Regions from separate parts of the Homo sapiens genome. Here region 1 is linked to region 2. The links come from fine-mapping of genetic effects on gene expression. A gene starts in region 2. The other region holds a variant in brackets. All regions are shown on one strand. Distances are from middle to middle.

Region 1 (4,392 bases), 67 kb after region 2:
TTGCTTGCTACTTGGCTCCCCACTGTACTATGAGCTCCTTGAGGACAGGAACTTAATAGGTGTTTTTCCTCAAATTTCCTCAGCACCCAGTACAATGCCTGGCAATAAATTGGTGGTCTTTTTTTTGTTTTTGTTTTTTTTTGAGACGGAGGCCCACTCTGTCACCCAAGCTGGAGTGCAGTGGCACAATCTTGGCTCATTGCAACCTCCGCCTCCTGCATTCAAGTGATTCTCCTGCCTCAGCCTCCCAAGTAGCTGGGATTACAGGCGCACACCACCATGCCCAGCTAATTTTTGTATTTCTAGTAGAGATGGGGGTTTCACCATGTTGGCCAGGCTCGTCTCGAACTCCTGACCTGATCCACCCGCCTCGGCCTCCCAGAGTGCTGGGATTACAGGCGTGAGCCACTGCATCCAGCCAATTGGTGGTCTTTTTAAAAAGAATTGTACCCTGGCAGGTCATGCTAATATATACTACTAGAAGCACTGTCTGAGAGTGCCTTCCGCCAATGGGAAACAGAGCCAGATACTAGTCAAAAGCAGTAAAGCCATATTTTGAGTACTATTATAATAGAGGAAAAGAGACTTCAGTATAGAACTAAGCTCAATCCAAAGACAACTAGGACAAGTGTGGATTTACAGTCAAGCAGCAGAGTGAGGGAGTCAGTAGAAAGAAAATTCCTAAGGGGAGAGAGATATCAAGGGTAGGGGGATTCTTGCTCAACTGACTAAACAGGATTCTCGCTCAAGGCAGGACAAGGTGATCAGGTATCAAGGGTGAGGGAGTTACTCAGCAGGACTCTTGCTAAAACTGGGCTAGGCAGGCCGAGGACAGGGCCCAAGGACAAGGTGTAGTTGAAAAGAAAGCTGAGAGGAGCCTGTCCAAAGTTTGCTCAAAGAGACTTTGTTACTTCCTCAGGCCAGTGTATGTTTCTTTATCTTTATGTCTTACTTTGCTGCTAGTCTCCCCACAAAATAGATCATATCCCCACTACTCTTTACTTATTATTCCATAGGCATTTTAAGAGCTTCTTTGAGTTATAATTTATATTTCATAAAGTTCTCCCCCTTTTCAAGTGCAAATTCAATAGTTTTTAGTAATTTATAGAGTTGTGCGAACTATCACCACAATCTAAGTTGGGACATTTTCGTTATCTCTAAAAGACGCTCCATGCCCATTTGCAGCCACTCCCAGTTCCCACCCCATAGCTGCTTTTGAAAGCCATCATATTTGCCTAAGGATGAAAGGTACAGCCTCACTGGAAAAGCAAAAATCAAAACTACCACGCGTGAAATAATTTGAGAACCACCAAGCACTAATTGTGCATTTCTGATTATTTTCTCAAAAACATTTAAAGACAAGTCAATGTGAACTAAGGAGTGGGAGGAGGTTTCAAGGAAAAGGTAGAACATTTTAAGGTTTTTCTGCAGAGGAAAAAGTGAGCAAAAAAAAAAAAAAGGAAAAGGAATTTAAGTTGAAAAATACTCCAACAAACGAACCAACATGTTTTCAGAACTTTTTGAAGTTCCAGTATGGTGCTGTCACGGTTGGTGAGCTGTCTGTCCTTGATCCAGTAGACAATGCGAGTTTCTAGAACAGAAGGATAAGGATTTATCACAAGCCATAAAAGCTGAAGCAACACTCAACTGAAAATAAACATGTATTGAGCGCCTACTGTGTGTCACGCAAGGGGCTCTGCGCAGGAAAAAAAAAAAAAAAAAAGGCTCCTCGCAGCTCCCCCTGCCCCGGCCAGGTGGCTGCGTGCCCCCTTCCGCCTAATCCCTGGACTGCCCTGGGGCTGAGAACTCCCCTGGCGCGAGAAGCTGGACTCCCCCGGGGACCGGCCCGAGATCACTCGGAGTCGGGGGCGTCCGGCACAGGCCAGACGCAAGGAGGACCCAGCTGGGGCCGGCCCTTCCTTCCCTTCTCCTGTCGCACGACTAGGCCTGTGCCCGGTCCCACCTGCCGCCCTCCCCCTCCTCCTAATGGGACCGAAAAGAGCCCGAAGGGCCTGGGAGGGCGGGTGAGGTTCCCAGGCCTTTCCAGATGCCCTGCCGTGTTTGGCAAAGCGATTGTCTTCCCTCTTGGAGCTCCGCGGACACCCGACCCCTCTTCCTCTCCCTCGCCAC[C/A]TTCCGTCATTCGCCACGCTGACCACTTCCCCTCTGCTGCCTCCCGCTGAAGCCCCAGCCCGGCCGCGGCCGCCATTTCCCGACAGCCTCTTCCCTGTCCCTTTCCCTGAAAGGAAATGTACTGGGGCGGGGCGGGGCGCTGTGTGAGGGTCTCGAGAAAGCCGCCGGGGAGAAGGAGGGATGGATTCTTTCCAAACTCTCTCCGCTCTCCCGGAGCCCCCTACCTCACCCTTTCTCCCCGAATTCTTGTGGGCTTGGGAGCGAGAGAGAAGGAGCTGGTCCCAGCGCTAGTCACCGCCACCCTCAGCCCACAGATCGGGGGGGGCACGGGTACTCGTACACCACCCCATAAGGATCCCAGCCATGTCCTCTTTCCTTCGCCAGAGCTCATTTCCTCCTCCCTTCCAGCTTCCTGCCCTTTCCCCAAGACAAAGTTGATGTTTGCCTTCCCTGAGACTCAATTTCCTCATCTCTAAAGTGGGATGACACGTAAGAACATCTTGTATATGTGAAACATGCCCTGTGCAAAAGAAGGGGAGCAGGAAGAGGGATACAGGGAGAAAAAGGGCCGTGGAAAAAGGGTCCTTGGAATGTACGGGTAGATGTTCTAAAGAATGTATCGGTCAGAGCATTAGGATAGGTTCAGAAAATAATTACTGAATATATTATTTTGATTCTTAGATGTTATCTCTCACTATTTATCTCTTCTTTCAGAAGCCTAACATTCTCTTCTCAGAGGGCCAGATCGATGTGTGTTGTGTGCATTTATCTGTGCTGACCACTGCTGTGACGGAGGTGGTGGGGCGTCCATTCACAGGCTGCAGGCACAGGGACAACATAACTGTGGAATCCTAATTAGAAAAAAGGAGTTAGGCTGGCTGGAGCAGGGGAAGGCAAAGGGAGAAAGCAAATAAGCTATAAGTTTGTCTTTCTTCATGGTCCAGAACATATAAACAAAAAGAGGAATCAGATAAGCTATAGGTCTGCTTTTCTTTATGGCCCAGGACATGTGGCTTCTTGCGCAGATAACATACATAACTCACAAACTTCCTGCTCACTATCAAACGCCTCAATTTATCAAACACCCCAGCTAACAGAAGAATGCAAGCTAGCTCCCTACTGCCTTGGTTTTCTCAATCAGCCCAAAAACCATCCTATAAAATCTCCAGCAAGCCTTTGTTTCTTTTCAGTCGGCTCCTCTCTTGCAGGCTGCCCGTTGCCTTCTCGAAACGTATTTTCCTACTTTCTCTAATAAATCTGCCTTTACCTCCAACTGTCTTGGTAAATTATTTTACCCCTGCACCACCAGCCCAGTTAGTCGACACTCCCCCGCGACGATAACCCCTCACCTTCCCAGCGGAGTCCTGCACCATGCTAACCTGGGCCCCTTGGGCATGCCTGCTTTGCACTCATGAGAAGACAGTTTTGGTCATTGTGGGAGCAGCTTGTAAAGGGTTCTTGTGACACTCCCAGCCTGGTATAAGGCACAGCAAGTGGAATTTCCTTCCATCAGCAGCTGTTTTGCAATAGCCCTGGAGGCCCATCTTGGAGAAATCTTCATTTTAGCTGACAGCACTAGGAATTCTACCTGATGGAAAAGGAGCTTGATTTATAAACATATTCGCAATGCATTTTCGTATCATTTTGCTGGGTAGAGAAGGCAGAGAAGATATGTCATGCTTACACATGGGATTGTCTCTGTTTTGGTTACCTCCTTTAGGGTTGGATGAGTGAATGCAGGAATCAATGAATGGGTGGATAATGGAATCCATGTATCCATCAGCCAGTAGTTTCCTGCAGCAGAACCACCCTGAGCACTTGTTAAAACACAGCTTATTGGCTGGACAGAGGTTCACACCTGTAATCCCAGCACTTTGAGAGGCCAAGGCAGGAGGATCTCTTGAGCCTAGGAGTTCGAGACCAGCCTAGGCAACATAGTGAGATCCCGTCTCTATAAAAATCATTTTAAAAAATAACTGGGCTTGGTGGCACTCGCCTGTAGTCCCAGCTACTCGAGAGGCTGAGGTGGGAGTATCACTTGAGCCTGGAATTCAAGGCTGCAGTGAGCTGAGATCGCACCACCGCACTCCAGCCTGGGCAAGAGCGAGACCCTGTCTCAGAAAAACACAAAAAACAAAACACAACTTGTTGGGCTCCACACCCAGTTTCTGATTCAGTCCTTGGGGGAAAGGGACGAGGCGGGGGGCGGGGGGGCAAAAAGAATCTGCATATCTCACAAGGTGGAGGTTCATGCTGTTACTG
Region 2 (4,392 bases):
AGACTGAGGATCCTCATCCTCCAGACTGGTCACTGGTCCTTACTGGATGCACACTGGTCTCCACCAACCCACTCTAGAGGTCTACCCAGGCAGTCCCCACACTCTTACCAGTCTATACTGATCAGGAGCAATCTCCTCTTTGTTTCTTTGCTTCCAGTGATCTTAAGCCCTGCAGCAGACATGCAGGCAGATCTATGGACAAGTAAACAAACAGTAGGTAATGGAAACCGAGTCCCTGGTAGAACAGACAAGCAACCTGATCCCTGACCCCAATGTCTGCCTCGCCAGAGCCCAGGTTCTATATACTAATGTGTACCATCTCATGGTCCCCCCATCAAGTCTTCCCCCAGTCATACTCCAGCCCACCCTTACCCCCATATTCCTATCATTTCCTGCACTGAAATCCACAGGAGGCATGGCAGCACTGTGGCAATCCAGCACTCCACTGAGACCCTCTTAAATCTCACCCACCTCCTATGCCCACCCTCTCTTGTCATCCCCAGAGACTACCCCCACTTCACACCAACCTCCATGCTTCTAGATTGATCTCCTCCTCTTTCCCTTGCTTCCAATGGTAAACAGCCCTACTGCAGGCCTATGGGAAGACCTTGGAACAGATGGAGAAAAAGAAGAGAGTGGATGTTAAGTACTTGTGACACTTACCATCTAAGACATAGGTCCCTGTACCTGCCTGCCTGGATTTAGAGACCCATTTGCTGGCAGAAAAAAAAAAAAAAAAAAGCCTGGGGCTTCCCCAGCACTGAAATGGGAAGGATGGAAAAGGGAGGCAGGAAAAGTAAAAGGCAACAGACAGAGGCACGTTATTTTATTTTATTTTATTTTATTTTATTTATTTTATTTTTTATTTATTTTGAGACAGAGCCCCACTCTGTCACCCAGGCTGGATTGCAGTGGCAAGATCATGGCTCACCACAGTCTCGACCTCCCAGGCTCAAAAGATCCTCCCACCTCAGCCTCCCAAGTAGCAGGAACTACAGACTGTGCCACCATACCCAGCTAATTTTTAAATTATATGTAGAGATGAAGTCTCGCTATGTTGCCCAGGCTGGTCTTGAACACCTGAGCTCAAGCAATCCTCTTGCTTGGGTCTCTCAAAGTGCTGGGATTACAGGCAAGAGCTACTAGGCCCAACAAGGCAAATTATTTTAAAACCACCTGTAGGGTTCTAGGGATTTCCCCAAAAGCCCACCATTTCCTTCACCAAGATGGTCAGGTAGGTAGAGGGATCTGGAAAACTGAAGGATGGCAGGAGAGATGGGAGACCCCAGATCCCATACTCTAGAACCACAACCTACTGCTGTCCACGTCCCTTTCAACCTATCTCTAGGAGTCTCCAGCAGAAGAGAAAAGCTATAGGGGAAGCCTTTTGCTTCTACAAAATCACTATCCTTCCCCACCAAAGGCTATCTAAAAAATAATAATAATAATAATATTCTTTAATATAATTTATCTTTTTCTCAATATTATCTGAAATGCAAATAAAAGCATCTGTAGAAAAGTTTGCTGTCTTCATTGGTCTTCAACATACAATTTAAAAGTCCTAAGCTTGGTAAGTAAAATGCAGTTTAGGGAAAGTCCCCAAGCTAGCCCCACCCCACATCCCATTCAGACAGCCGCACCTAAGTTCCTGTCATAGAATTCATATGGAACTCCAATGGTTTAGATAGTGTCTGTACTCACACTAACCTCCTTGATCCAGTGCAGTTTTCTCCTCTCCTTCCTTTCTCCTCGCCGCAAACAGTGCTACACCGAACTACTGTCCGACAGACAGGAGAGAGTAAAACCACTTAGTGTTGGTCTAGAGCCCAGGACATAGATCCCAATACTCGCCTTTCCGGGTTCAGGAACCTGGTTATCAAACGTCCCTCCCCACAGTCTGAGACACCACCCTTACCAACCCCACCGTCCAGTCTCTAAGGCCCACCATTTTCTCTGCAAACGCCACCGTGGCGCATCCCTTCCACTAAATTGAGCAGGAAGCGAGCGGACATGTGTGGCCAGTGATTAGAGCGATGGGCATCTCAATCTCTGTATTTCCCTCTGGCAGAGACAATCTCCCCACAAATCAAAGCCCACGGTTCGCCTGCACAGATGTAGGCGGGGGCAAGGGGGCTAGGGAGAATCAGAGGCAAAGGCTCCTCGAACTTGAGGCAGCATAGACCACCGCCCCCTCAAGCCCCGTAACCGCTGCCGGGGTCAGTGAGCTTCTGCCGGCCTGGCCAGGGCGCGCGGGCCCCAGGGCCCTTACCTGCTCCGCTTTCCCCGGGCCCGATGCCAGCCCGCCGAGCGCAGGGCAGCGGGGAGCTGGTAGCCAGATGCGAGTGACGACTGCAACGAAGGCTGCGTAGCTCTGCAGCTCCGGGTCACGTGAGGACCGCGCGTCACCGCCGAGCTCGCCCTCCTCCCCAGCACCCCCTACCACCCACCAAGGGCCGGCGGCCAGTCACCAGGAACTCCCCCCTCCTCCACTCCGCACGCACAGACATCCCCGTTCTCTGGTCTGTGCTCGGTGCCCCAGTGCGCACGCGTTGTCACTCATCTCCGTCCTCTCCAATCTGAGGGCCCACAAGTGGCATCATCGCCTTGTGGTTGGAGTTTACCCATCTTCAGTTACAGGGGAGGGTCTGCATCCCCCTACCCACTCCCGGCCCTTGGCTGTGGCCTTTTATGTTTCTTCTTTGAGTAATCACTTATTTCTCTCTTAGACTATAAGACCAGCACTCCCCACCCGCCCCCTACACGACCTGCCCTCTCTAAGTACAATGCCTGCACCAAATGGGCTGTGGAAGGGGGTATCAGGAAGGAAAGCAGAAGGTGCAAGTAGAGCTTTAATTTTCTTTTTCGTGTTCCTTTTTTTTCTTTTAATATGACATTCTTTTCTAATATTGTAATCAGAAAATACAGTATAGCCATTTTCATTTGACACAAAAAATATTCAGGGTGTAAAAATAACAAAAGACTCATTCTTTTGTTTACATTATTTTGTGCCACATTTTAAAATGTCTTCTGTTACTGCAAACTATTTTACAGCTTTCAAAATTGACTAGTAATTCTTGACATTTTAAATACAAAATTGTCCTAAACAAAACCAGCACGTATTCAATATGATCTATAAGTTAATCTTTGGAAAGACATTTCGTTTTCTAATATTGACAATTTTACACAGGTGATTTGTAACTTTTGAAGTTCTGGCTGAACTCAGCATCTTTTTTCAGGTGTCTAAGACCTTCTTCAGAGAAGACTTCTAGAGGATATATTTAAGACCCAACTCCTGATGAGCCTAGTGCTTTACTAGTGACTTACCAAATTAACCTGCTTTACTAGTGACTTCCCAAATTAACCTGTTTTCCATTCAAGGGGCTTTATTTGGATTTTACATAAGCATGTAATCAGATCAGCCTCACCACACCCATGGAACAACCAACTGCTAGAGCTTGGATGGAAAGGAGACTTAACAGGTGGAATTTTCATCCGTCGTAACACTTGAGATCTCGCCGGTGTCTGCCATTCATGTACTACATACTACCCTAGCAGTGGCGAGTGTTCAATATTTTCCAGTGGAGATGGTGGTGAGGGTCTGTGGATGACTGTGAATCACTGCAACACACCTGATGTCCGTGTCATTATTTTTTTCCCTCACAAGTGGAAGGGCAATGTACAGGATCCCAAGCAATTGCCAAGAAAAAGAAGTTTTTTCATGTCCTGCCTTGTGTTACAACTTCACTGCACCTCCCATACAAGCCCCTCAGAATAATCCCAAAACTCAGGGACCAAATATGCAGAAGTTAGTCCCCACGCATCCACCTGTCCCCGCTGAGGAGTCATACTCCAAATATAGACCCTCCAGGCAGCCTCTTTCTTAGAACATTGAAATAGGACACCCCAGAGGGAGGGGCTCCACTGTGAGGGGCCCCTGTGTGGAGGAGGCCCTTTCAGGAGCCAAGAAAGGAAGTCCTAGTGCCTTACAATCTTACTAATGGCTTTTCAGAACTCAATTGAAAGTGACGAACTTACTTTCTCCACCAAAGGAAAATATTGATAAATTAATTGCATACAAATTTTAAACTTTGGTAAAGTAAAAAAAAAAAACCATAAACATTGACTGTCAAAAGGCTAACTTGTAATAATCTAAAAGCTCTTACAGATCATTAGTAAAATGATAAACAACCCAATAGAAAAATGTGCCAAAAGACATGAACAGATTTGTTCACAGAAAAGAAATAGATTACTAATAAACATATGAAAAGATGCTCAAACAAAGAAATGCAAATCAAAGCAACTATGCCTTACCATGTTTCAAGTATGATTTTCTCAAAGTTTAGAAACTTGATAATATTGTTGACTGGTTTGTCAAGAAATGGGCACTCCTCT

What was found.
Region 1: its variant is fine-mapped to the expression of ARMCX4 in whole blood (TOPMed, PIP above 0.99). The same link has a PIP of 0.9 or more in blood mononuclear cells, esophagus mucosa, esophagus muscle, gastroesophageal junction, monocytes and sigmoid colon.

The regions. Positions count from the first base shown.
Region 1 is chrX:101,416,109-101,420,500 of GRCh38, reverse strand. It overlaps a transcript of ARMCX4 not described here. Among named protein-coding and RNA genes, the nearest start is that of HNRNPH2, 10 kb to the right of the region's middle. The variant C/A (reference allele first, on the strand shown) is at 2,131.
Region 2 is chrX:101,483,408-101,487,799 of GRCh38, reverse strand. ARMCX4 (armadillo repeat containing X-linked 4) reads right to left here and starts at 2,344. Exons shown (of 6, transcript NM_001256155.3): 1 at 2,270-2,344; 2 at 1,708-1,777; 3 at 528-607; 4 at 109-192.